Homo sapiens: one gene and its partners. The protein of the gene in region 4 interacts with the protein of the main gene of each other region in a pairwise test. Each region holds a gene or a part of one and is shown on either strand. Other genes may lie near its edges.

Region 1 (7,029 bases), on a different chromosome or scaffold from region 4:
AATGTCATCTATTACATCAAAAGGCTAAGAAAGAAAAATCACATGCCCATATCAATATATGCAGGAAAAGCAACTGACAAAATCCAAGACCTATTCATGATAAAAACTCTCAGTAAGCTAGGAATAGAGGGAACTTCCTCAGTCTCATAAAAAACATCTACCAAAAAACGTATAGCTAACAACATACTCAGTGGTAAGAAACCAGAAGCTTGCCTAGATCAGGAACAAGGCAAAGATGTCCCCTCTCACAACGCCTTGTCAAAATCAAACTAGAAGTCCCAGATAATGTAACAAGTCAAGAAGTGGAAATAAAAATTATAGATATTAGGAAGGAGGAAATAAAACTGTCTGCAGATGATAAGATTGTCTATTCATAGAATCTTAAAAGAATAGGCTGGGCGCGGTGGCTCACGCCTGTAATCCCAGCACTTTGAGAGGCTGAGGCAGGCGGATCACAAGGTCAGGAGTTTGAGACCAGCCTGGCCAACGTGGTGAAACCCTGTCTCTACTAAAATTACAAAAATTAGCCAGGTGTGGTGGCGGGTGCCTGTATTCCCAGCTACTTGGGAGGCTGAGGCGGGAGAATCACTTGAACCCAGGAGGCAGAGGTTGCCGTGAGCCGAGATCGTACCACTGCACTCCAGCCTAGGTGACAGAGTGAGACTGTCTCAAAAAAGAAAAAGAAAAAGAAAAGAAAATCTTCTTAAAGAATAAACCAAACAAAAACAAAAACAAAAACAAAAACAAATCTCCTAGATCTAATAAGTGATTATAGCAAGGCTGCAGGATATGAGGGTAATAATCTGAAACTCAGTTGCTTTCCTGTAGACCATCAATGAACAATACCATTTATTAATACATTAGCACCCCCAAAAATAACTACTTAAAAATAAATCTAACAAAATATATATAAGGATTCTATAAGGAAAACTACAGAACTGATGAAAGAAATCAAACAAGATAAAAATAAATGGAGGGATATTCCAACACGGATAGGAAAAGCCATTATTGTTAAAATATCATTTCTTCCCACCTTGATCTACAGACTCAATACAATCCCAATCAGAACTCCAACAAGTTATTTTGTGAATATTGACAAACTGATTCTAAAGTTTACATGGAAAGGCAAAAGACAAAACACAATTCTGGAGAAGAAGAGTTGGAAGACTGATACTACCCAACTTCAAAACTTAACTATATAATTACAGTGATCATGACAGTTGTGGTATGGGCAAAAGAACAGAGAAATCAGTCAATGGAAAGAACAGTTTGGCAGTTTCTTACAAAGCTAAACATAGGCTTACCATATATAATATCCAGCAATCACACTCCTAAGCATTTACCCAAATGAGTTCAAAAACCTGCCCAGGAATCTTTATAGCAGCCTTATTCAAATATGGATAACTGCTGTACATCTACACAACGGACTATTCAGCAATAAAAAGAAATGGCCTATCAAGTCACAAAAAGATATGGAGGATCCCTTAAATGCATACTTCTAAGTGAAAGAAGTCAGTCGAAAAAGGCTACATACTCTGTGCTTCCAGCTATATGATACCTGGAAAAGGCAAAGCTACAGAGATAATAAAAAGACCAATGGTTGCTAAGGAGAGTGGGAAGAAAAGAGAGATAAATAGGTGAAGCACAGGGCATTTCTAGATGGTAAATCTATTCTGTATGATACTGTAATGGTAGATACATGGCATCACACATTTTTCAATACCCATAGAACTACACAACACGAAGAATGAACCCGAGTGGGAACAACAGGCTTCGATTAATAATAATATATCAGTGTTAAAACTGGTGCATCAGTTTTAACAAATGCACCATACTAATGCAAGACATTAATAGAGGAAAATCGGGGGGCAGGATATGAGAACTCTATAATTTCTACTTAATTTTTCTGTAAACTTAACATTGCTCCAAAAAATAAAAATAATTTTTATTTTTGAGACAGGGTCTTGCTCTGTCACCCAGGTTGGAATGCAGTGGTGCTATCAGCCTTGACCTCCTGGGCTCAAGTGATTCTCCCAGCTCAGCCTCTCAAGTTCTCAAGTAGCTAAGACTACAGGCATGCACCAACATGCCCAGCTAATTTTTTTTTTTTTAATTTTGTAGAGACGGGATGTCACTATGTTGCCCTGGCTGGTCTTGAACTCCTGGGCTCAAGCAATCCTCCTACCTCAGCCTCCTGAGTAGCAAGCATAAGCCACCATGCCTGGCCTATTAAATTTTTGTTAAGAAGTCATAACCAGCTTTGGCCGGGCGTGGTGGCTCATACCTGTAATCCCAGCACTTTGGGAGGCCGAGGCAGGCAGACCATGAGGTCAGGAGTTCAAGACCAGCCTGACCAACATGGTGAAACCCTGTCTCTACTAAAAATACAAAAATTAGCCAGGCATGGTGGCACACACCTGTAATCCCAAATACTCAGGAGGCTGAGGCAGGAGAATCACTTGAACCCAGGAGGCGGAGGTTGCAGTGAGCCGAGATCGTACCACTGCACTCTAGCCTGGGCGACAGAGCGAGACTCCATCTCAAAAAAAAAAAAAAAAGAAGTCATAACCAGCTTCAATTGATTTTAGAAACATCACAGGCTCTTCCTAAGTTGCTGGTTCCTGTGATATATCTGAGGGAAAAACATACATGCCACTTATTAACAAGTTTAAGAAATAAAGGAGGGGAGAAAAAACTATTATATGACTTACCTGTTGCTTCAAAAGTCAATTTTATAGAATCCCAAGGTGTCTGTTCTTTGGATATGAGTCGGAAATGAGGAGGATTTCTTGGAGAAACTTCTGGGGCAGGAAGATACCAGTTTTTCCTATTTAGAAAGGAAGCTTCAGTTTTAGGGTGCTTTATTATTTGATGGCTATCTGTAACTCACAGAACTGTTCAGCATATATGAACACATTTTTGGGTATGAAAATAAACTGACAGACATGATAAGCAATGCCAACTCCAACAAATTTAGGTTATTTTGTAATAAAACCTTCCCAATGTTAAGAACAAAGGAGTAACCTAGGTGATCTTGATTCCACCACCCATCCTATTTCTTCTCATCCAGTCCTTCACTGCCAAGCTATAAAATCTTCCCAGAGAAAACAATTTTTTTTTTTCTTTGAGAGACAGAGTTTTGCTGTTGTTGCCCAGGCTGGAGTGAAATGGCGCGATATCGGCTCACCGCAACCTCCACCTCCCGGGTTCAAGCAATTCCCCTGCCTCAGCCTCCCGAGTACCTGGGATTACAGGCATGCACCACCATGCCCGGCTAATTTTATATTTTTAGTAGAGACACGGTTTCTCCAGGTTTGTCAGGCTGGTCTCGAACTCCCGACCTCAGGTGATCCACCCGCCTCGGCCTCCCAAAGTGCTGGGATTACAGGCATGAGCCACCGTGCCCGGCCACAATTTTTGAGATAGATGCTTATTGGCTATTATATTAGTTAGAAGGGCCACCTTTTCTAACCACTCAGGTTTCTAGAGAAAAGATTTTTAAAATTTGAAAAAACAAAACTACTCTTCTGAGTGCTTTATTCCACTAAAAAAAAAAAAAAAGTTTCATAATGATAGAAAAAATAGTACAAACACCACTGAACTTGTATATTAAAGGATGGCAGTTTAAATGATAAGAGTACTGATATGGTGACAAGACTTGAGAACAAACTAACCTTAAGCAGAAAAATAATGAACCAACCTGATCAGAAAGTGCACTGGAAGATACCAAGGAAAACCACAAAGAGGTGCATTCTCCTCACAGTGAGCTCGGATACTATCATTGATCTCAGGAATGTGAGGGGTTATGTGAGAAATTCCAGTATAATCAAACCCATTGATCCATATTCCAGAGTCCCGTTTAACTGCATTTCCTTCCAAGTCATGGAATGTTCTAGTCATATGCTGAAAAAAAAAGACTAGTGAAAAAACTGTTTCAACTAGTACACCCACATTCCCACCCCAGATTACAAAAATGGAGTATGACAATACCAAGAAATGATGTGGATATGGAGCAAGTGAATAAGACACTGAGAGTTTCTAAGGTACTGCTAGCGTTCTTTATTTTAAACTGGAAAATAGATATATAGATTATTGTTTTATTGTATCTTCCAAATATATTTAGGATTCCTATAAAATGTTTTTGAAACTTACTATTTCAGACTTAAAAGACGTTAATGTTAGAGCTGCTTTTAGATAAGGATTTAAAACAAATACATCCTAAGCACATATATACATACACACTCATTTCCCTATTAGTGTTTTATGAAGCTAATTCATGTGCAGAGAAAAGTGGGAATTGCAGCTCACCACTAGATGACAGCCTTGTGCCTAACAGAATTCTATGAAAAGGCACCGTGCTCCATTTGAAATAACTTTATTCACGGCAGAAACCAGCCTGAAGAATACCAATCAGGAAAAAAACAAACAAAAAAAAACACTGCATAGGGCAGGAGCCGGCAAACTGCAGCCAACAGGGCAAACTGTCCACTGACTGTTTTTATATACGAACCATTATTTGAACATGGCCACACTCATTTGTTTGGGTATACTCTGTTGCTGCTTTCGCTCTGTTTCACTGCAACAGACTGTATTGCTGACAAAGCCCAAAATATTATCTTGTCCTTTACAGGAAAAGTTTGCCAACTTCTGGCACAGTGGAAGAGAACCCCCAAACAAATCAGAAAATGACTTTTTAAAAATAAAAATCCTGCTTTTCCTAAGTATTACTGACATAATTATAAAACTTAATACATCATGAAAAACACACTGAACCTCCTAAAAAAAAATCCGTTCTTCACTAAAGGTTTTACAAATTGTAAAATCTCACATAAAATTTATCACAGTGTCCTTCAGGACTATAACAAGGAATTGTTATTTGGCCCCTTTTCAAAACCTCCTAAGTGTTTTTAATTTTTTAAGTCCTTGAATAATTATCTAGGTATAATTCCTCTGGCATTTCTGTTTGGCTAGATTAGGTTAGATGTGACTCTTGCCCTTAAGGGTATATGTTATCTTGAAGCAGGATCTTTCACTTACAGAGTATAAAATACAAATAAGAATTATGCAAAATATACAATATGTTAGTATGTGTTCACAAACATGAGAAAGGGATGGGTATAAGGCATAAGATAATTTGTGTAGTATGAGAACTTTTAAAAACAATTTAGAAAAACTAACAATTTAGCCATCTCTAACAGAGATGACTAGAATTGAGGCTTACTGCTTTATAGTACCAGGTCTAAAAAATTTGAAGAAAAAGTTGAGATCTAAAATAAGTCCTCAAACTGGCCAGGTGTGGTGGCTCACACCTGTAATCCCAAGCACTTTGGGAGGCCGAGGTGGGTGGATCACCTGAGGTCAGGAATTCAAGAACAGCCTGGCCAACGTAGTGAAACCCTGTCTCCACTAAAAATACAAAAATTAGCCAGGCGTGGTGGCGAGCGCCTGTAATACCAGCTACTTGGGAGTCTGAGGCAGGAGAATCACTTGAACCGAGGGGGCAGAGGTTGCAGTGAGCCAAGATCGTTCCACTGCACTCCAGCCTGGGCAACAGACCAAGACTCCATTTTAAAAAAAGAGAAAAGAAAGTAAGTCCTAAAACTCACTTTATTAAACCCTTTCTAAGTTATAGTTTCACTATCACATATCACTTTGAATGTTACTTAAGATTAATTTTACTAGCACTTCTAAACATCAATTTTATTTTGCCAGTTGACAGTTTAGATTTTACTCAGCCTGTATACATTTTTACAATCTATATTTCTAAAAACTCATTATTCCATAATAAATATTTGCTCCTGTTTTTCCAAATAGATGCAGTTTTATAATTTGAATAGTAATAAAAACAAGCAAACATTTCCAATTCAGTCTCCTGGGAGATATATGTCTAGCTGATAAGAATGCCTCTTGACAGTCAGTCTTCTCCTCACTGCCTTACACACAAAAAAGGTGAGTATGACTAAATAGGTCAACAGCAGAAAAGTCAGCTGCGCTTGCTATTCACTACTGAAGCTCAAAACACACAGGGCTTCCTTTCCAGATCTCAAATACCTCATGCAAAACTGCTCACCTGAAGAAACACTCTCTTTGGCTTCGGATTAGCAGGATTGGAGCTATATGGAAAAAATGTTCCACTGCAAACAAGGAGGAATGTAATTGCACATACCAAAGTTAAAGTTAGCATGGTTTTTTTTGTGCTCTTGGCAAGGTAGATGAAGTTAATCTGAAACACAAACCACAAACACAGAAATATTACAAATTCATTCTAGTGGTGGAAAGGTGTTTTTAACTAACTTTATTTTTAACAGTATTACCTAACAGCCCCTGAAGAAAATTTATCAGCAGGTGCTAGCATACTCTAACATCTAGTAAACAAAGCACTAACTCTAGGAGATTTCCATTGCAGGTGAGAACCTAGAAAATGACAGATGCCTCCAATCTGCCATGATGGTGCCACCTTTTTGGCATGCAGCCAAAAACCAAGAGGGAAAAAGGAAACTCAGGACTGTCGCTGTCCTTAATGTGCGAAAAGAACAGAAATGTAGATGTAATGGATTATTCATTAAATAACCAGAGATAAGCTTTAAGCTTAGGCAGATCTGTTTGGACAAAACTCAAATTCCACTCATAATGCTTTAAAATATGTCAAAATACTAAATTCATCTCAACTGGCATAGAGATGTACCTTCAAGACTCTGCCAGTGGACCTGCATAAGAGGAAAAACTGCATTACAAAGTAATATTATCCCTCTAAGTGACAAATTAACCAATGCCAACACAATCAAAACAATAAATCTAGGCAGTAAATGTAAATGACTCAGTCTCAAGGTTGGCATCTAGAAAATCCTAAATATTTTCAATCGTAATGAAATCGCTGAACTAAAAACTGTAAAGGACACACACGACTCACAGAGTATGTCCACAGATCCCTTACAGGGTCTGAAGAAGCCATTTGGGGAAACTTTTATGTGAAATCTGAAATTGTTCTAAGAAGCCACATTTTAAATATTGTGAATACTGAGAGAAAGA
Region 2 (6,974 bases), on a different chromosome or scaffold from region 4:
CTGGAGAATGGCCAAATAGGTTATGTCCAAGTTTTGAAAACCTTTTACTGCTATTTATGATAATAATGGATATCTAGATATTTAAAATGAACCTCTGGTTCATTTTTTTTAAAGGGGGCACGTATTAAATTTCAAGGACTACCTAGAACGAACTCTTTTTGTAACAGGATCTTACTCCTCTCTGCCTGTCAGAGGACAGACACCTCATTCAATGGTTAGAAATTGATTATTCCAGAGGCTGCATCCAGCTCACAGATGTTTGGCTAGCAGAGTGTTTTCAAATAATTTTAGTCAATATTTAAAGATTAGGAGATATCATATAAAAATCCAGATTCTTGGCTTCTGTTTTAAAATTGGGAAGTTCTGGCCAACATGGCAGAATTGACTTAAGGTAAAGAGAGGTGCCCTCCTTTAAACAGGCCGTGGCTTTCCCATTTAAAGTTCCCACCCCTCCTGATAGGCTCCTAAACGCCAAGGCAAAGTGATTTCCTTATGGTAAAGAAAACTGTGAACCACTGCTTGTATCTATGTTTCTATCAAAAATGAGAAAATGGGCCGGGCGCAGTGGCTCATGCCTGTAATCCCAGCACTTTGGGAGGCCAAGGCAGGAGGATCCTGAGGTCAGGAGTTCGAGACCCAGCCTGGCCAACATGATGAAACCCTGTCTCTACTACAAATACAAAAATTAGCCAGGCATGGTGGCAGGCACCTGTAATCCCAGCTACTTGGGAGGCTGAGGCAGGAGAAACCAGAAGGCAGAGGTTGCAGTGAGCTGAGATCGTGCCACTGTACTCCAGCCTGGGCAAAAAGAGCGAAACTCCGTCTCAGAAAAATAAAGGGGAAATGAAAGACAAAGAGGGCCCAAGCATTCAACAAAAGATGAGAAATATCCTATTTCTGGAAATGAAAACTATTACCACAGGTCTAATACACAAAAACGTACACAGATTCATTTGCATTAGGTGACTGGCCCCAGAGGGATATTTCAGTTTACAAATCCTGATTTATTCCATTTAGTTCAAGTCATAGTAAATACTGTCACTAACAAGAATCTTTTCTTACACCCCTCCCCTAAAACTCTGATGCCCCACTGTGAATCATTATGAACGAACTGCACTGAGAGCTTCTGTAGCCTGGAGAACCCTTTCCAACTATTCACATGTCTCTTTGCAAAAAGCCTACAGTCTGAAATGGCAATCCCTTACGATACAAGCATTCTCATTCTCCTTTTCATTTTTCCTTTGTTGCAAACTGACCAGTATTTTGTTTTCATAGGAGAAGGAAGTTTGTGTAAATGGAGGCTTATGCTCTAAAGCACCTTTAAAACTTTAAAGATCTGAGTCCAGAGTACCTTATATTTAAGCAATGTAGCTTTAGGCTTTAAAAGGAGTCTATTCTTTTGAAGCAACCAAATGGCAGATAAGTCCTTCAGCTCTCCAAATGTAAATAGTATACCGTTTTTAATTCTTATTATTTTTACAGAACATGTGAAACTGATAAACTACATTACTACTTTTTTTTTTTTGAGACGGATTCTCGCTCTGTGGCCCAGGCTGGAGTGCAGTGGCTCAATCTTGGTTCACTGCAACCTCCGCCTCCAGGGTTCAAGTGATTCTCCTGCCTCCATCTCCCAAGTAGCTGGGATTACAGCTTTTTTCTAGTTTTAGTAGAGCTGGGGTTTCACCGTGTTGGCCAGGCTGGTCTTGAACTCCCGACCTCAGGTTATTTGCCCGCCTCGGCCTCCCAAAGTGCTGGGATAACAGGCGTGAGCCACCGCGCCTGGCCCATTACTAATATTCTTATTCAAAATTAAAAGCATCACTGTAATTGCTTTACAAAGCTATATTCGCCTCACTTATCTTTTACCAAGACAGATGGAATAGTTACATAAAATATAAAGACATTTTGAAATAGGTGTAACTAGTCCAGAAGTGGTGGCCTGTATTGCCAGCACTTTGGGAGACACAGGTGGGAGGATCACTTGAGCCTAGGGGTTTGAGACCAGCCTAGCAACACAGAGGGACCCCTATCTTATACAAAATAAAAATTAAAAAAAAAAAGAAATAGGTATAACTCGAATTATCACAACAAGCATTTATTAAAGGCATTGTTTATACTATCATGTTAGTAAGTTAAATCAGGCTATGGAAGTTAAGTAAACACAACCATTCATAACCATTCAGAGGATATGAGTTTTGGATTTCACAATGGTATGGTTTTAATTTCCTCTGACTAGATTACAGAGAAACAACTTAGAACACTCAGACTTACCATAATAGGTGCTTGCAGTCATTGATATAATCCAGAAAGCTAACGAAATGCAAATGATCAGGCTCAGTATAACTATATTAGTTATCATCTTTATATATCTTTTGCATATATTGTCGTTAAGATCTGTCATGGAAAATAAGGATATGAGCTCCTGCGGGAAAGAATATTTAGCGTTTCGGAGAGAAAGTCATTTACGATGTGAGCAAGACACTTGTTCAGAGGCAAACATAAATCCCAACATATTCCACCGACCAAACAAGCATAAAAATCACAAAAATTCAAACTCCTTCCGGAAACTCCTACTGGCGGAGAGCTCCAATTCATATGGGCGTGGTCAACGCCTCACCGCAAAAGCAGAGCGCAACCCGGCGGACGGTGAGGGCCGGTCGCCGGCTGCCGGCCGCTTCAGCGCCTCACGCCGGAGCCCACGGGGAAAAGAGAAAGCCGAGGCAGCCAATCCGCGGTCCCGGCGCTGGCGAGTTCCACCCACCTCCCGTCGCAACCTTCTCACCCGCGGGCCGGGTAGGCCAGCGGCTGCAAAGGGGCAGCTAGGGCACCCGAACTTGGGCAAGTCTGGGAAGCACGCCCGACGCGGCTGAACGCAGTCACGTCCCGACAGCTGCGCAAGCCGCCCTAGGGTCAGGTCCAGCCGGCCAAGGCCGAGACCCCAGGAGCAAAGCCCGCGCCTCCCGGCGCCCCCGCCTCTAGCGCCTCGCCCGCTGTGGGCATGCGCCGCAGCCGCTTAGGGGGATGTCGCCTAGCTCACGTGGGCAGGCACTGCTGGCATCCTGGCCGGCTGCGTTTGCACTGCTTCTCCAAAACCACATTATAGGTACTAAACAACATTGTTTAGTACCTATAATGTGCTAGACTCCTGGCTGCTAGCGAGGTAAAGTTAAACATAGTTTCTATTACTGAGCTCTCGTAATTATTGTCATAACACCACTTAGATTGTGGAAATATCTGTCCTCACACCCCTTATATTAAAGGTGTGTGCATTTAGAAAGCAAAACGTCTTGTTAGCATTAAAAATCTGAATCGTGGCTGATTTCTTTTCTTTTCTTTTTTTTTTTTTCGAGACAGTGTCTCTCTCTGCCGCCCAGGCTGGAGTGCAGTGGCACGATCTCTGCTCACTGCAACCACCGCCTCCCAGGTTCTAAGCGATTCTCCTGCTCCAGCCTCCGGAGTAGCTGGGATTACAGGCGCCACAACCACGCCCGGCTAATTTTTATATTTTTAGTAGAGACGGGGTTTTGCCATGTTGGCCCGGCTGGTCTCGAACTCTTGACCTCAGGGGATCCACCCACCTCGGCCTCCCAAAGTGCTGGGTTTAATGGCGTGAGCTACAGCGCCCGGCCTGATTTCATGTTTTATGTGAAATTAACTTGTTTGCCTGGGTTAACAGTAATTAACTGATAATTACATAATATTTATCAATTTTTTCAGTTAATTGCTGACAGTGTAAGAAGAGGAGCCAAATCCATTTCAGACACAGTATGCAATTGTGTTTTAAGCCCCAAGAGTAGTTACTTTAAAAAAGCTCACATTATTTTAAATTTCAAAATACATGCCAAGACAGCTTGTCATTTTCTTTGGTAAGACATCTAATTAAGTAGTTAACTAAGAATCAAATCTGTGAAGTAGGACTAAATAGTAGTGGGCTTCCTGTACTAGATAATATACATATATGGTCTTTATGCTGAAATGTATTATGTGCCTACTTTATTTTTGTCTTAGTCTGTTCTGCATAGGTAAATGTTTGGATTATTTCACCAAGCTGACTGGCCAGTATCAATGTTACCAGACTACTGGGTAAAATTATTAATAATGAAAGCTAATGTTTTGTGGTTTGCACAGTCGCATTGTTTTTGTCTCTGCTTAGACAAAATTATAAACTGGTCTTTTTTTTTTTTTTCTTTTTTTTGCCTTGCTTCACCACAGTCACAGAGTGACCCTCTCTGATTAGTTGGTGTTCGATAGGAAAATCATAGCCTAGTTGTGAATGTCAAGCTATCTCCCAACACTGTGGTGTAGCTGTGTCAGGTCAGTCCCTGGATGTCAGGGATGATTTTCTCATGACTATTAGATCTGGCTAAAAAATGCATATTAAATAGTAGTGTCAGTGAACTGACCCTTTAGATGAATATTTTCCCTTCTATTTTTTTCAGTGACCAATTATAGATGTTTTTCTCCATAAAAGTTATTCTAGCTTAAGACCAAAATAATTTAGAGGAGTTAATATAATTAAAATACAGTAGTTCTTATATGCAATAGGCAGTTTCAGTTACCAAGGGTTAAACATGATCTTGAGGCAGGAGAATAGGGTCTCCTATTGAGGCAGGGAACCTAAGGCCGATTCATGCTGACTTCCTAGAGCTAAATCAAAAGGAAAACCCCAACTTCCCATACCTAAGTAACAAAAGGACCCAAAGCTACGCCCTTTGCAAACCCCTCTTTTTTTCTGCGTGGCAGATAGAAAATTGAAAGTATCTCTGCTTGGTAGCTTTCTGCAACCAATCAGACGTTTGCGTAGGAGTGTAACTTTGTAACTTTGCTTCAGCCTCTAATTGGTTGTTTTTCACAACCAATCAGACTGATTGTGGGCTAGTACTTCATTTACATTTACATAAGGTGTACACCAAGTAACCAATGGGAAACCTCTAGAGGGTATTTAAACCCTAGAAAATTCTGTAAGGAGGCCCTTGAGCCCCTATGCTCAGATGGTTCCCACCCTGTGGCGCGTACTTTTGTTTTCAGTAAATCTCTGCTTTTGTTGCTTCATTCTTTCCTTGCTTTGCTTGTGTGTTTTTCCAGTTCTTTGTTCAAAACACCAAGAACCTGGACACCTTCCACCGGTAACAATCCGAAAATATTAAAAAGAAAATTCCAGAAATATTCATAAGTTTTAAATTGCATGCCAAAGTAGCATGATGAAATCTCATGCCATCCAGCTCCATCCCACCTGGGACGTGAATCCTCCGTTTATCTAGCATATCCATCCATGCAATAGACATTACTCTCTTGTTAGTCACTTAGGAGCCATTGCAGTTATCAGATGGACTGTTGCAGTATCACAGTGCCCTTATTTTAGTTCTATTACAATATATTGTTATAATTGTTCTATTTTATTATTAGGTATTCCTCCTAATCTCTTACGGTGCCTAATTTATACATTAAGCTTTATCATAGGTATATAGGAATTGGAAAAAAATAGTATATATAGGGTTTGGTATTTTCCAGGGTTTCAAACATCCACTGAGGGTGTTGGAATGTATCTCCAAGGATAAAGGGAGTGGGAGGGGCTCTTGTATACTTTTAAAAAATCACGATTTTACTGTTACAATTTTTATAGACTATCAATCTTAAAAATTTCAACAAAGTCTTTGTTTTTCTATTTACTTTGGAAGCCATTTTCTGGCAATGGAAAATTTCTGGTTAGGCATTTCCTAAACTATATTTTTTAACTTAATAGTAGTTATTCTTTGTTATTAGTAGGCATCCCTACCACTCAAAAGATACCTGTGATCAAATTTAAGGTTGAGAAATGTTGTCTCTACATGGGATAGTTAGAGTGTATTATTAATGACTCTAAGAAGTTAAGAAACAAACACATTTGTTTAAATGGTTCCAACAGTTAATTGTCTTCATCAGATTTATTTCCTGTAGAAAACATGCAGTTTGAGACTTACTATAGCAATCATAGAATAAACTGAAAGTTCATTGTTGCGCTGATCTTTAAATTTCACAATATAAATACCCATTTATGGTTAAGTGCTCTTTGATATAAAGTTTGGATTTTTCTATGATAGACATTTATATTCAATACCAATCACAAAAATTATCCTAATGTCAAAAAGCACTTACTGTGTGATAGGAAATTATCAGATTTTATTTACAATCCCTTTGAATCTAATTCAAAGGGATTGGTTTAGATTTTCTGAAATGTGCGAATATTTGAGTGATTTGAGTGCCAACACACATACACCACATGTGTATGTGTGGTGAAGGAGCATAGCAGATGAAAATGGACATGTAGACAATTACATTATAAAAAGATGATGACTTTATCCAAGTCATATATAAACAGGACTCAAGGAGAAAAGCACTTATGTCACTCTGGTATGTTTAGGGATGGTGTCACACAAGAGAGGGGAGCATCCAAGGTAAGAATTGAAAGATGACAAAGAGTTTGCTCAGTGACTAAGCTAAACAAGGGCAATTTGTAAAGGTTTGTTTGGTGGTTAAAAAGAACATGAAAATAGGAAGTTCAAGAGAATGGAGAAGAGTTAGAAATAACACATTTTGGAGTGTTTGCTAAATAATTTATTAAACTGAAAATTCATCTGAGAAATAGACACCTCTTTTAAAAAATTTTTAATATAAAAATAGAGGTGAGGTCTCACTGTGTTGTCCAGACTGGTCCCAAACTCCTGGCTATAAGTGATCCTCTTGCCTTGGCCTTCCAAAGTGTTGGGATTACAGGTGTGAGCCACTGCATCCAACCAGTATATGCCTTCTTGACATTAAACCCGAATATTTTGTTTTTTAAATGTTTGTAGTATAGATTTTAAAAGACTAGGGAGCAATTTGAAGATGGATTTGTTGTATTAGGTTGAGCTCATTCTAAAAGGGCCTTAGGGAGAGGGTGGGGAGCAATTGAGGGCAGGAATAAAGAAATGGAATACTGTTTTCCAGTAACCTTG
Region 3 (7,508 bases), on a different chromosome or scaffold from region 4:
TAAAAAGTTCTCAGCATGTGAATGACAATCAAATGTGCACTTGGATATCAGAGTAAAAACTGAGTAGGAAAGAGTCACAACGAAGGGTAGAAAAACTAGTTAATAAACGTCTATGAAAGTTAAGAGGAGAGTTGGTCAGGCTATGAGAACAAAGACATATTTCACAATCTGCATTTGGTTTCTAAGTGAATGGGGAGTCTGGCAGAAGACAGAAAAGGTATGAGCCTCCAATTTCAATTTTGTATCAAAATCAGTGATAGTGCCACCACAAAGTTTGCGAATGCGAGGAGCTCAAAGGGCTGAGATATCAACCACAAAGATAAGAAATTTAATATGTCTGGAGAAATACTACAATCATTAAATTGAAATAGAACCTTCTTAACAATGTAACAGCATCATGATCGGGACCCTATAGAATTTTGAAGCAAGTATTTGGAGACCTAAGGGTTGGTTTTTGTTGTTAAATTTGTTTTGTGATGTATGTGTTTCCCTTTGTTATTTTTGGCTTTGGTTCTGTCCGTTTCCTTTGTACAAAACATGCACTTCTCTTAGAAGTCATACTGCTTATTATTACACGTGCTCATTTGACTCTCAATTGGGAATTTCTTTTTCTCCTGGTGTTATCTTGCACTAGTGGTTACCTTCTAAATGTTAAATTTTCATTTCCATATTATTTGTATACTGATAAACCATAATTTCCTTGAAGCCACGTAGCATGCTATAGCATTTCTATCACTTAGAATGTTTAATAACTTTCCAAAATTTATGTAGACCTATATGAGTCCTTTTCTTAATCCATCTGGCCTCTCTTAATGTCAATGCTCTTCTCCACCCCTCATCAAGATGAGGAAAGAGAATTTGCCCAGAATTCAGATATTTATGAAAAAATAAAATGTTTGGGTCTCCAGGTTATCTGGCAAATCAAGTGAAAAGTGAACCTACCTCCCCCAAATGACCCCTAAGCTTTATAGGTTACTTTATCACTGGGTTATATCAACAGCCCCCCAACTCCAGTTGATGAGTAAATCTTATTTTCTTTTCCCTATTGCCCTATGGAGAGAATTTCCATCCTCTCAATCTCAGACCACTAATTCTTATTCGCAGTTTTGCTTAGATGTTTTTTGAACCAGTCCTTCCCTACGTAGCTTTAAAATTTAAGGCAGTAATTATCAAACCCTCAAGTACCCTCAAGAGATAGGTAAAATCTTCTTCCTGGGTGTCTAGGAGATCTAATCTAAAAAAAGCTCCTTATCTTTGATGTATTGTGAACATTACAAAAATTGATTCAAAGCTTGCATTTTACTGTATCTCTGTCTAAATATTAAAATGCTTTAATTTAGTCATCACTTATATTAACTTCTGGTCAAAAATTTCCAAAAACCGATTCTATTTTGAAGCTTCTTCGCCCTCCGGATACACCACTACAGACTGGAGTTTAAATGCTCAATGTAAAAGATTACTACATACATCACAGTGCCCTTCACAAAACGTTAGTAATATAGCTGGGCGCGGTGGCTCACGCCTGTAATCCCAGCACTTTGGGAGGCCGAGGTGGGCAGATCACGAGGTCAGGAGTTTGAGACCAGCCTGGGCAATATGGTGAAACCCCATCTCTACTAAAAATACAAAAGTTAGCTGGGCGTGGTGGCACACGCCTGTAGTCTCAGCTACTTGGGAGGCTGAGGCAGGAGAATCGCTTGAACCCGAGAGGGAGAGGTTGCAGTGAGCTGAGATCGCACCATTCACTCGGGGCTGAGTAACAGAGTGAGACTCCGCACCCCCTTCCAAAAAAAATTAGTAATACTTTTGAGGAACACATTTAAAATGCTACAAAACTATATAAAAACAAAAGTAAAGACATGAACTCATGATTCAGTTGAAACTGAATACTAAATTTCATTTAGAGCTTAGTAAAAATAAATTTGTAATTATTTTCCCATCCAAGTTCAAAGACACTTTACCCTTAAGAATCCACCTTCTAAAGGAAAAAAGAAAATAAGTGCTAACACTAAATGAACACTGTTGCAGGATCTCTGATAATCACTATGTACACTTCATGTCATTAAACCATCACAAATACTATTCCACAGATTAGGCTGCTTAGGAAAGTTATTTGTATAAAGCCATGTGACCAAAAATACATTCAAACTATAGTGTAACTCCAAATGAAGACTGTGACAAAGCACCTCAAAAAAATTTTCTAGCCTCTAGCTGAGGAATCATTGAGGAACACTCTACTGATAACACTATAACTCATTAATACTCCTATTAAACAACTTTCTGTTTGGGCAATTAAAAACAATGTTCAGTTAAAACTAAAATCTAATACTTCCTAGAGTTCCACATGAGATCATCACCATCATCGTCATCTTCACTAGCTAACCCAAAGGAACAAGGTAAACACAAAAACTCCCCACTCTTGTACCAATCTAAAAAGTAAATTTTTGAATCCATTTTCCAACTGTGTCACACACAGTTGTTAGTATCCTTCTAAGGTGTGTATATGCCTATGTATACTTTTTAAGTAAACTTATAAACATGTGGTAACTAGGGCATATTTTATTCTGTCTACGGCAGCTTCTTGGTTTATCCAACTAAGTATTACTAATTCTATTTTCTTAGAATGAGAAGTTCTCAGAACAATGATCTATCACCTAAATTTCAAATGAATGTGTAACTGGTAGACAAACTTAAAGCAGACTTTCTAAAACTATTAACAGTGCTCAAGAATGCATCTATTTACATCTTAAAAATTTCTCAGTTACTATATGCTACTCTAATGAAAGCTATATTCAAATTATAATTTTTTCCCACAGCATGCCAACAGATTAGGAATTATAAACAGACAGATCTGGATTTGAATCCTGTCTATTCTTTAGCAGCTGGTTATCTCTGACAAATTACTGTAAACCTCGTTAGGCTTCTCGGTTTTGTATTATCAATCATCATTGGTAACTGATAGTACTGAGAGATCCTCATTATGTAAGGATTGAAAGAAAAATGGTTGTAGCACTGAGAAAAGTATCAAACATTATTCTGCAATTTCCTTAACTTGGGTTTTACTTTTAAGTTGTAAATTTTCCCTTGGCAATGTTCACAGGATATCTTTGCTAAAATATTATTTTTCAGTTAGTTTTAAGCTGACTCTTTAAATATCAAATGATTTGCTCTAGAGATGGATTTTCTTTCTTTGGAAGAAGCCAAGATCATTTCCATTTAAGGGCATGTAAGCAGCTGCTGCTACACATTTTAGTTACCCATAAGAAAGTGAAGTGGGCTAAGTTCACTCTGTCATAAGCATTTAAAAAATTAAAAATTACAAGTACCTCCTCTAAAATTAAAGAAGAGATTTAAGAATTAATATTTTCGAGTGTGGTGACTTAAGTAAATCTAACATCTAAGACAACAAATTAGATAAACAGAGAAGAGGAGAATGATGCCCGGCTTTACAAAAAAATTATTTCCCCAGTTCTACTGTAAGATAAACTGTTCTAGGAAGTTCAAAATATCATCTCACTTACTAGCATCTCATTTTTATAGTAATTTTCAGGAAAGCAACTGCTAGATTAAATGAGGCACATCCTTTCAAAAACATTACAAAACTTAAATTTCAACACATCAAACCTATAAAGCCTCATTAACTGAGATGTAACTGATTTGGAATCTGTAATTATTTCTTTTTTGCCATAAAGTTGCCCTTAATACTGCATCAGTTTATTAAAAATTTGGTAAGATTGTGTAATAATTTAATGCAATTGTTTTTAAAAAATCTTAAATACTTAAAGTAGCATATTGCTATTTTGGGGGTGTTGTATGTATCAGTTTAAATATAAGTATTACTATTCACAAATATATTGTTAAACTGCTAATTGAAGAAAACACAAATGAATTAAATACATTTATTAGTTCTTTAACTGTAAGATAAAAATAATTTTTTAAAACAAAAAGCAATTAGCCTGATTTTCTCATACTCCTTCTCCCATACACACAAGAACAAGAACAAAATAAGAAAACAGGTATAAAATTTTATTGTGTAAAAATATTTCACTTTCACTAAAAGCTAACATTATGAAGACACGTATTAAAGCAACAGCAGCAAGAATTCAATGAAAGTTGTTTTGCTTATACCTGTGTTTATTTTTCTCATAATTAAAATTCCTGCAGTAACTATTTTAGCTCTTCAACATCTTCACCATTAATATTCAATTATCTCTAAGCCTGAAGATGCATGAATCTTTAACAAAAGCTTTCCACCACCTCAAGTTTACTTATTTTTTTCATTTATCTACCATATACTGTTTTAAATTAAAAACAAAAGATGAAGCACAAAGTGTTAATGACTTTTCCATACCTAAAGTAAGAAGTTCTAAAGTTTGGTTGTGATAAGACTGAGACTGTGGCTAACCAATCGAAACTTCAGAATTCCTATGTGACATCATAAGACCTCCCTAGAACACTTTTTCTCCTCCACCTACTGCAACTGTTCCCATAAACTGGGTGACAGAGTCAGAAAACTCCCCAGCTAAACACCCGTAAGACTTCATACAACACAATACTCTATACTGTGATGATCACAGCTGCCAAGGTAAGAAACAGATTTCGCTGACTTTGGTAATTCTTACTTTCTATAATTCTTAATTCCTATAATTTCTATAATCTGAACTTTTAAAATGAGTTAATTTTATGAATATCAGTTCAATCTTAGGCAATAAAATGACATGACAAAGTGCTTAAATTTATAAATGCTTATCCATTTAGTGACAGGAAAAATGAGACAACTTTGAAATGAAAAAGGTCATATTCATCTTTGATCCTGGTTACTGGTTTGTCATTTAAATTTATCTTTCACTTTTATTTTGCTTTTCAAATGTGAATTTCTGCCAATTAAAAAATCTTCCAATTATGTTACCATATTTGGTAGTAGTGGTTAATTTCTCCATGCAAAAACAATGACTTAATTTTGTTATTTATTGCTCTGCTGAGAAACAGTGCAGAACTGAGCTATTTACATCTGAACTAATATGAATAGTCATTTGACTACAACATGCACATTATCAGCATGCCTATTCCAATATTATCATAATTTCATACAGTGAATAATGAAATGGAGTTTCAGAATATATAATACAAGCTACTTTTAAAGTGCCCTTGAGGATGTTTCCCCTCTAAAGTCCAGTCAACTTTTAACAAACATTTCTAAAAAAATTCCATGCTATTAATAAATTGAGTTACTGATATTAAATTCAATATTGTATCATAAAGAAGTTTAGAAATTTTAAAACAATGTTCACAAACACAAAAAATCTGACGTTAGAGAATAATTTGATACTTTAAAAAGTTATTTTGACACACGAATATTCTTAACTATCTTATTTTCACACAAATTTGATTAAATGGATTTCTGCCTATTAATGCCTATAGTTTTGTCAAGTTATTATCCTCCAGTGGTACTCCATTTCCTCTCTCGGATTTAGAAAGAAAGGAAAAAATAAAATAAATGCCAGGAATGGAGATGCCACAATCAATTTTATGACTTCTGTTTGAATTCTACCCTATTCTTTATGTTACAATCCTCAATTTAGTAAATGAAACGTTTCCTCATTCTTAGATCTCTGTCAGGGCATACAGAAAATTACATATATTTTATTTATTTTGATTTTCATATTTCATATATATGTTAAAATAAAATTTATCTCTAAAATTCTCAATTCCTATGACAAATGTTAATTCTATTGCTCACTACAAATAAGAACTTTGTAACTCTGTAAGCAGCTTTCCTTAAGACATAAAAAAACATAATTTTTGTCTACCACTGAGGTATCCTAATTGTGTCTCCATATCTCTATACTCATATTTTTCCTTTGATAGTACATAAAAGTCATTCAGTGTAGGTGTCTTATGTTATTTGTGCATTTTTATTCAAATATCTATCAAATTACATTCTCACACTTCAAATTGGGTGTTCACGAGTTATTTTATTGTATCAGAATTTTGCTATATCACATATTACTCTAAAAAGTACACATACTTCTGGATAGAGCAGAAATTATATTAAACTTACCCTTAGCTCACTAGTATGTCTCAGTTAACAGAAATTACAGTTACAGAGACTGCTAAAATTTCAAATATAATGTGGTAGTACCATACATTGTGTCCCAACTAGTTCATCTATACCTTAAGGTGCAAGTTAAGTATTATCTTTGTTTATGAAGACATGTGGTTTCAAAGTAAGTGCTAAAAAAAGTGTTAGATGAAATCAAATGGAAAAAATATGAAAGATGTTTAAATTAAGAAGCATTAAGTTTTAAAAACGCATGAAAGAGCCAGAGTACTTGCTTTACTAAAAGGCGTGACAGCACTATCATTTCCTAAAACTCAAATATCAAATCCATTTTATTTGTATTTTAGTAGGCATAAAGGAAAATGATCACATTTGGGTATATAATCATATCTTTAATTAGTGAGATTAAGAAATAATAAAATATTGCATAAATACAATAGTTTCAGAAAATTTTAATGTATTTTAATGTTTTAATGTACTCATTACACATGTACACTAAATTATGTAATATATTAAATTTTTAATTAAAAAACCTAAAGTCTAGTTACCTCTCCAAATTAGACAATATATTACCAATCCCAGAAATGAGGAGGGCCAATGAACACTTCTTTTTTATTCTTAAAGAGCAATTTCCTAATATACTCGTGTACACAAATATTTCATTTGGTCCTCTTAATTATATATTTGATACTGCATCCCTATTCTACAATTTAGGAAAGATGCAAAAAGGTGAACTGCTCAAGATCACAGAACTAAGAAAACAGGGAAACCTTGGCAGAAGTTTAGGTTTTGTCACTAAGCCACATGCACATCCTCTATATACTGATCAGCATGGCTTAAAGTAAACCATGACACTGACAAACAAAATTTGAAAGCCCCCAAATACTGTAAATGATATTCTAAAAGGCAAAAGGCAAATTCAGAGAATACAAACTTCTATTTTAATTAAAAGCCATTCCACTCCATTTAAATTCAATTTATGCATAGCATTACATTCTTAATAGTCTAAATTATATTCTACTGATCATTTTCAAAACCAGAAATATACGAAAATTACAGATGCCCTTAGTTATTAAGCAATACCTCCTGGAAGGCAAAATTCAAACTAACTGCACAGACTTTAAAAAAAATAACACACCCCAATCAATCAAAGTTTCCTTTTATTTGTTTCATTGCTAAAATACTCATGCCTTCAATTCATCTGATACCTAAAATCCAAGTTAACATCTCCTCAAAACTTTCACAAAAATCACATTTCGATACTTTATTCTAGGTTCCCTAGAATCAAGTAGTCTCTTTGTACAATTTCAAAGTTCTTACCCAGAGTAATTCTGAAGCATGTGTTACCAAATAAACACATGAAAATGAAGCCTGGATGTACAGCATACTCATAGTCAACTGAGGACCTCTAGTGCCTTTGAAAAGGTACTCCATCTTTAGTTTTCAA
Region 4 (7,029 bases):
AAACAGAGAAGTTACAGGCAAAGAGTCCAGGTACATTAACTAGAGGCCCCAACTCACCTGAAAGAACCAGCTCCCCTGAAGCAGAATGAGACTTGACCGCAATAGCTCCAGAAGTACATTGTTCCGAACAAGGAACTCTAGGAAGGCAACGAGGCCTGTCAGAAAGACGACCAAAACCAGCAGCTGGTGCACAAAGATGTCCAGCATTTCCCGGCCATGAGTGTGGTTGTAGAAGATAAAGGCTGATGGGGAAAAAACAGATTGTCTTTTTCAGTGGAACCAAGGACCACCCACTGTTTCTCTCTCTCCCTCTCTCCGTAGACAGAATTTTACACATACACACATTTGTCCAAAAGAGCAGGCGCCCACTGATTCCCACAGTACTGCATTTTTGGAGACATCACCACCTCATTAGAATAGGATCTTTGAAATTGAACCCTCTTTTTGCTTTCCCTGACCTTTATTCTCTCTCTAACACATTGTGACATTTTCAATGAATGGATTCTCATTATCTCAGGGTGTTAACTGTATTTTTGAATGAATATCTTTTCCTCTTTATCTAAATGAAAAGGATTAAGACGAAGTTGGAATCTCCATAAGATGAAAATATTTCAAAGCATCTTCTAAGCAGGACAAACAACAGTAAGCATGGCAAGTGCAATAATTCAGATGAGCACACAGATGAATAAGTCAAAGCATCGCCTTAAGGAATTCAGTCCACTGGAGGAAGCAAACACATACGGGTGGATTTTGACAGATATAACAACATGCTCTGGAAGCTCCCAAGAAGTAGTAAATAACTGCATTTCTTCATCCTGTAGACAGATTCCAGCTTCATCTTTTTCATGAAGACAAAGAGAAAAGATTGATACAAAAATACGGTAACCCCCTGAGATAATGAGAACCGGGCTATTAGTTGTTGACATCCATCTTTTATCCAGCCCTTGTTCCCGAGGTATGGGCAAAAGTTCTCATCTTTGGATGCCAGAGGCAAGGTGAGTAGGAAGTGACTGCCTCCTGATCAATTTGTGGTTATCTATTTCCATAATCAATCTATTTTTTACGTGTGTAATACATGAAAAAAAAAAAACCATTAAATGCTTGTTTTCTTTTTTCCTCCCTACAGTAACTGGGAGACCAGCTGAACAAAAAATATTGTTTTTAATTAACTTTCCAAAATTAGGACCCCATATTTTTTATGTGACTGCATTTTTTGGACCCTACTTATCATCAAATGGCAGAGTATTACTGTATCAATATGAAAAAGCCTGTTAGTAGATAGTGGAAGCTGTTCCACTGTGAGTGGCTGCCTCATTTTAGTGTATTCATGCTTTATTATTCTGGGATCAGTTTTCGTTTGTTAAAAGTGAAAAAAAATGATAATCTTCAGAACAACCCAGAGATGAGTAACCTTTGTAAGTGGTCCTTTGAGACAGATGTGAAATGTGAACATAGCAATTGAACAATTGTGTTTACCCAGTTCTACTAAATGAGTCAGTACAGCATGTAGATTTTTGGCGCCCTGCCTAGGACACCCAAATATTTCATTATGGCCCAGATATATGGTCCTATCAATCAAGGCTGCAACAAGATGCCAGAGGTATATTAATATGAAGGGCTACATAAATGCTCACTAATAGAGAAAGGTACATGAAAATACTCACTAACACTTACCCTCCACAAATAAGGCATTTGACAACATTAACTTGGTTAAGGACACAGGAAGTGAACTGATGGTGAAACATAAGATATCTGCCACACCCAACAGCCCAAAGAAGAAATACATGGTGAAATGATGCCAGCCCAGGAGTTGATTCCAGTGACCTTGTTTATAGTCATATAACATCAGATGGGGCCCTCCAGGAATAAACTGCTCCCCAGCCATGCCTGCCAAGAAACATATCACAGTTTTAGCAACTCTGCTTTACATAGAATTCAAGAAGATGCAGGAGGACTAGTCCATTGCTTATTCCAATCTAATGTCCTCTTTTGACATTAATTCTTCTCTCTGAGCTGTTCCCTAACAGCTGAGCACTGGCACTTTAGGCTTCTTTTGGAGGTTCAGATGCTGGTTCAAATAAATAGTTTTAGTCAAAGATAGCCAATTGAATCAAACAGCTATTTCAGATCTTCAATGCCAATGATCTTAGTTCCACTGCCTATTCCAATCTAATGACTGAGATACATCCTGAATTATTTGGAGATTTGAATTTGGGAGACAACTCCTATGGAGATAGATTACTTCCTTCTTAAATACTACATCTTTGGGTAGCTGCCATAAAATAGGGGATTGTGCTTGGTACCAGATAAAAATGCTAAAGAGTTCAGCTTTTCTCCAATTATGATAACTGAGAAAGCCCAGACAGGACTGGGCACAGTGGCTCACACCTATAATCCCAACACTTCGGGAGGCCGAGGCAGGCAGATCACTGGAGGTCAGGAGTTCGCAACCAGCCTGGCCAACATGGTGGAACCCCATCTCTACTAAACATACAAAAATTAGCCGGGTGTGGTGGTAGGTGCTTGTAATCCTAGCTACTTGGGAGCTGAGGCACAACTGCTTGAACCCCAGAGGCAGAGGTTGCAGTGAGCCAAGATAATGCCACTGCACTCCAGCCTGGCCAATAGACCGAGACTCCATCTCAAAAGAAAAAAGGAAAAAAGAAAGCCCAGACAGATACAGCAGACGATCTAGTCTGGTATGCAAACAGTTAAACTTTCCTACAGATACTGCCTTATTTGTTAATCTATAGAATTTGGCAAGGAAATTTCCCTCTTTGGAAATGTTACTGTGTAATTTGATGCCATAGCAAAGACCTGTTGCCATGAATAAAGCATGAAGAAATCTAATGGGAAAACTGGAAATTTTATCTTTTATAATGGAGAGGCTAGAGTGGAACTCTCAAGAACACAGAACATTTTCATTGAATCTTCATATGGAAGATTCAGTGGAAAGGCCTTAGAAGTCATCTGGCCTAATCTCTTTCTCCAATTTAGGAACCAAGAAAAAAAGATGAGTGCAGAAGGCTAAAGTCTTCTACAGCCTATCAGAAATTATTTATTACTGAAGCTTTTCCATAATAACTTGATTAATTTCATATCATTTGCAAAATGGTTTTTGATAGGGTTTATTCTTTCAGAGATCAGAACAATTGATATAAAATTATTTCAGAAGCTCCAACCAATTCTTTAAAAGAATGAAAACACCTAAAAGGTAAAAATAGAACACAGAATGGTCCACTCACCAGTTAAAGCCATGCCAACTATTGTAATTCCCTCCAAAATTTCCAATCGATAGAATAATGTTTTGGAACCAAGATAGCAGGTTCGCTTTTGCTTTTTGCAGATATACTTCAGAATACTCTTTGTACACCACCAAAGACCAATAATAAAAAAGAAGGTTCCAGGGAGGGCATGACCTCTGAAATTCCCCATGATCTACAAATATAAGAACACACAGAAAGTAAAAGACATTTCATTGCCAGAATCTGGACAAAACATCACTTGTTTCCATAAAGTACACTGTCTTCTGATTATTATGGATACATCACTGAGGATGATTCTGAGGATCCTACATTACTGTGCATACTAGTAAATACCAGTACAATATCATAATACCAATAAAAACAAAATAAAAACTCACATTTGTTGAATACTTACCATGTACTCTGCACTGTGTCAAGTGTTTTATGTTCAGTCTTCAACCTAATTTATGCAACATACCCATGAATGAAGCACTGTTACCCCTTTTTCTTTAGGGATCCTCATTTAGAGAGGTTAGACCACTTGCCCAAATCTCACAAATATTAAGCAAAAGTTCCATTATTTTTAACACAGAAATGAAAAGGATTTCTTCACATCCACAGTATATACTTCGCCATACAGTGGCCCTTCAGGCCTATCTGAAGGAAAGTGATATGAAAGTTTTATCTTTATGTTTAAAACTTGAAATGATGTGAAATTGCCTACACATTCTTTTAGGTTGATAATTTCAAAATATCAAGCATCAAGTGTATGGAAGAAACAATTAGTGTTCATCAAATATCTGTGTGCTGCTCCCCACTCTTTCCCAGCCTCTCCCTCCAGTTAGATTGGGCCCATGTTTTTAGTTCTGGCTAATACACTATAAGTTGAACTAGCACATGTCACTTTCCAAGCAGGGTCAGTTAGCAGTCTACACAACTCCTTTACCTCTCTCTTATCTTGCCTGGGCAACCTTGGTGTGGCATATCTGCAACCCAGAAGGTGATCAACCAGCCTGCTTCAGATTTTGTAAGAAACAATCCCTTATTGTGCTAAGGCAATGAAACTTTGAGATTTACTGTTAAAACACCTTAGCCCCACCTAGCCAGATATCAAGCCAAATCAAATTGCAAACTTTGTTTACATTATTGCCACATAGTGGAGTCACTTCTGGTTAATAAACAGTAATACCCTCCATTTTTGGTCCCTGCTATTAAAAAAAAAAAAAAGAATTATGTGAGTTTTTAATTACGTGAGTAGCCCTTTGTTGAAACATATCATACCATCAACAGAATAATGAAAAGAGAGTCCAGAATCACCCTTGTGGATCTGACACTAGGCCAGGTCCAAGGAAACTCATGAAAGGAGATTTCAGGATTTCCCCTGGCCCAGCAGATTTATTTTATCTCTAGGTGATAATGGGCTGCTCAGTTCAGGACAGACCCTTTTGAGTTACTTCCATCCCTCTGATACAACTGTGAAACTCAGGGGGAAACCTGGAAGCTGACCCAAACACTAAAAGTCTCTTATATCTCAGTGGTGACCCCAGGCAGTCATTTCAGGACACCATTGAATCGTCCAAACCATCCAAGAGTCTCAGACTCAATATATCACATAGTGCTATGTGCAGGTCCTTGTCCTAACTATACCTGTAATGGTGTGTTTGCGTCATGTTTCTTAACCTTTCTAAGCCTTGGATCTTAATTAATAAAAGAAGGAGGCAAGCCTAGATGAAACCTGGAGTTCTTTCCTGCCCTAAAAGTCTTTGATTTATTATCTTAACCACCACCTTTATCACAGTGTTGCTGAGTTCTGTTTTGGTTTAGGCAATCATATGGGATCGAGAAAACTTCTATATGGGATTGAAAAGTATATACAGACTGCAAATTTTTTGAACTTTTCTGAAAATGGGTTGTATTTGGTTTAAGAAGTCTTAAACATTTTATATTTCTTAGTACAGGAAGCCCACTTGCAGGGATTTATCTTGCAAATATAAATGGAAATACAAGCACTAGGAGAATGTCAAATAAATTACGCAGCCACTGAAAATAAGGTTTTCAAATAACTTAAATGATAGGGAACATATTTAGTTAAAAAAATAGGATTAAAAATTAGGGGAAGGGGCTTTGAATTTGGATTATCTAAGTCCGAATACCAACTTTATAATTTGTTAGTTACATAACTTTGGGCAAGTTACTTAACCCCTCAGTGCCGCAGTTTTCTCTTCTGTAAAATGGGACAAATAACAGTACCTACATCATAAATTTAAAATGAATTACTCCAAAGCAAATAACCCACAGTACTGTTAAATAAGCTCATGCTATCTTCAACCTACCTCTAACTACCAGAGTAAAACAAAAGTAAAACCAAATGAACAATTTTACTTAGATACTAAGATGGATATAGAAAATCAAGAAACATTGATACAATTCATTTGGCAATCATTGATGTAGTGCCCAAGACACTTCTCTTGCTGTTGTCTTAGAGGGTTACTGGGATAATCTGTGGTTATTGAACTCCTTGACTGCAATTAGAGAATAAACTCCTTGAAAGCAGAGGCCATATATCCATTCTTCTTTCTATTCCCCACTGGCTATCCACTGCCTTACATACTATGAGGTTCTAAATTTACAAGGAGTTACTAAGCTCTTCTCATAACACAAGATCATATATTTGCAAAACATCTCTACTCTGATGTCTCAAAGGCCACTCACACTCAAAATACCCCAAAACTGAACTAATCATCTTATCAACCCACCTACTGCCAGAAAATAATTTTAGTTATCCTAAAAGAATCCCTGGTTACCTAGTTTGGTTAACAACACTGCCAATTCACCCCTTTGCCCAAACCCAAAATATGAACATCATCCTAGAGTTTGGCTCTTTCCTTAAAAAACAATTGGTAATTGAGATTTATCACCTCTGTTGTCTAACATTGATCCCCTCTAGGGGTAGGAGATCACCTGCTTGGAGAAATCCTTCCTGATGGCCCAAATAGGGGAGGGTCCCTATTACACCCTTTCAAGGCACCCAGTCCTCACATTAGTGACTTCTTTGCATGATTAGTTATTGAAGGTCTGTCCTCCTCAATAGCCTCTATGACCATTACCATATTATGAAAGCCTGTGCAACTGACTATGGGGGCACCTCAGAGGTTAAATGCCTGGGCCTTCTCCACTTTTTTTTTAAGGCTGTTAGTATATTAAAAAAGAAAGAAAATGCCAAAACAGAGTCACAAAAATTTTGGTTGCTTTTAAATATTTAGAATTACCTAATAAATACTTTAAACATACAAGCAAACATATTGCCTATGTCATAGATATGATGAAATTTTAAAATCCAGGCCTTCCCTGAATGTACAGCTCTAGGCCAAATAGCCCTCCTGACCCACCCCTATGACAAGCTAAGAGGCTCCTGCTGCCCCCAAAGCTGAGAGGATCAGTATATCTCAGCACATCCATCAGGATGTAATAAGGAGGCAATGGGGAATAGTGGAGGGTTTGTGAAGAAGAATATGAGCTGATCAAAGTGGGGAAAGAAAGGAGTCCTCCTTCCTACTTCAGTTATACAACTCCTGTGTCTTCAGCCTTTTAATCTGAAACAATCTGATGGTTCCAATCTTTCTGTTTAAAGATCCAAACAAAATGAAGTCAAAGTATAAGGGTTGTTAACATTTGTCTGGCTAAGGAACCCAACAGATACAGTTACTCCTGGCAATAAAAACATCATTCATCTTATTTCATTTTCATTGTGAAAGAAAACATTGTCCATATCCTCAAACGTTAC

The links.
Region 1: the proteins of TMEM45A (region 4) and ERMP1 interact in binary tests that used the Homo sapiens proteins (3 or more experiments, as listed by UniProt).
Region 2: the proteins of TMEM45A (region 4) and TMEM19 interact in binary tests that used the Homo sapiens proteins (3 or more experiments, as listed by UniProt).
Region 3: the proteins of TMEM45A (region 4) and PLN interact in binary tests that used the Homo sapiens proteins (3 or more experiments, as listed by UniProt).

Annotation. Positions count from the first base shown.
Region 1 is NC_000009.12:5,795,106-5,802,134, forward strand, and holds part of ERMP1 (endoplasmic reticulum metallopeptidase 1), read right to left. Parts: intron 6,224-7,029; coding exon 6,071-6,223; intron 3,904-6,070; coding exon 3,701-3,903; intron 2,828-3,700; coding exon 2,712-2,827; intron 1-2,711. UniProt on the Homo sapiens protein: Within the ovary, required for the organization of somatic cells and oocytes into discrete follicular structures.
Region 2 is NC_000012.12:71,682,108-71,689,081, reverse strand, and holds the start of TMEM19 (transmembrane protein 19), read right to left. Parts: upstream 3,001-6,974; 5' UTR 2,402-3,000; coding exon 2,272-2,401; intron 1-2,271.
Region 3 is NC_000006.12:118,543,808-118,551,315, forward strand, and holds the start of PLN (phospholamban), read left to right. Parts: upstream 1-4,488; 5' UTR 4,489-4,585; intron 4,586-7,508. UniProt on the Homo sapiens protein: Reversibly inhibits the activity of ATP2A2/SERCA2 in cardiac sarcoplasmic reticulum by decreasing the apparent affinity of the ATPase for Ca(2+).
Region 4 is NC_000003.12:100,551,618-100,558,646, reverse strand, and holds part of TMEM45A (transmembrane protein 45A), read right to left. Parts: intron 4,282-7,029; exon of another isoform or gene 4,192-4,281; intron 3,439-4,191; coding exon of another isoform or gene 3,436-3,438; coding exon 3,246-3,435; intron 1,888-3,245; coding exon 1,675-1,887; intron 243-1,674; coding exon 58-242; intron 1-57.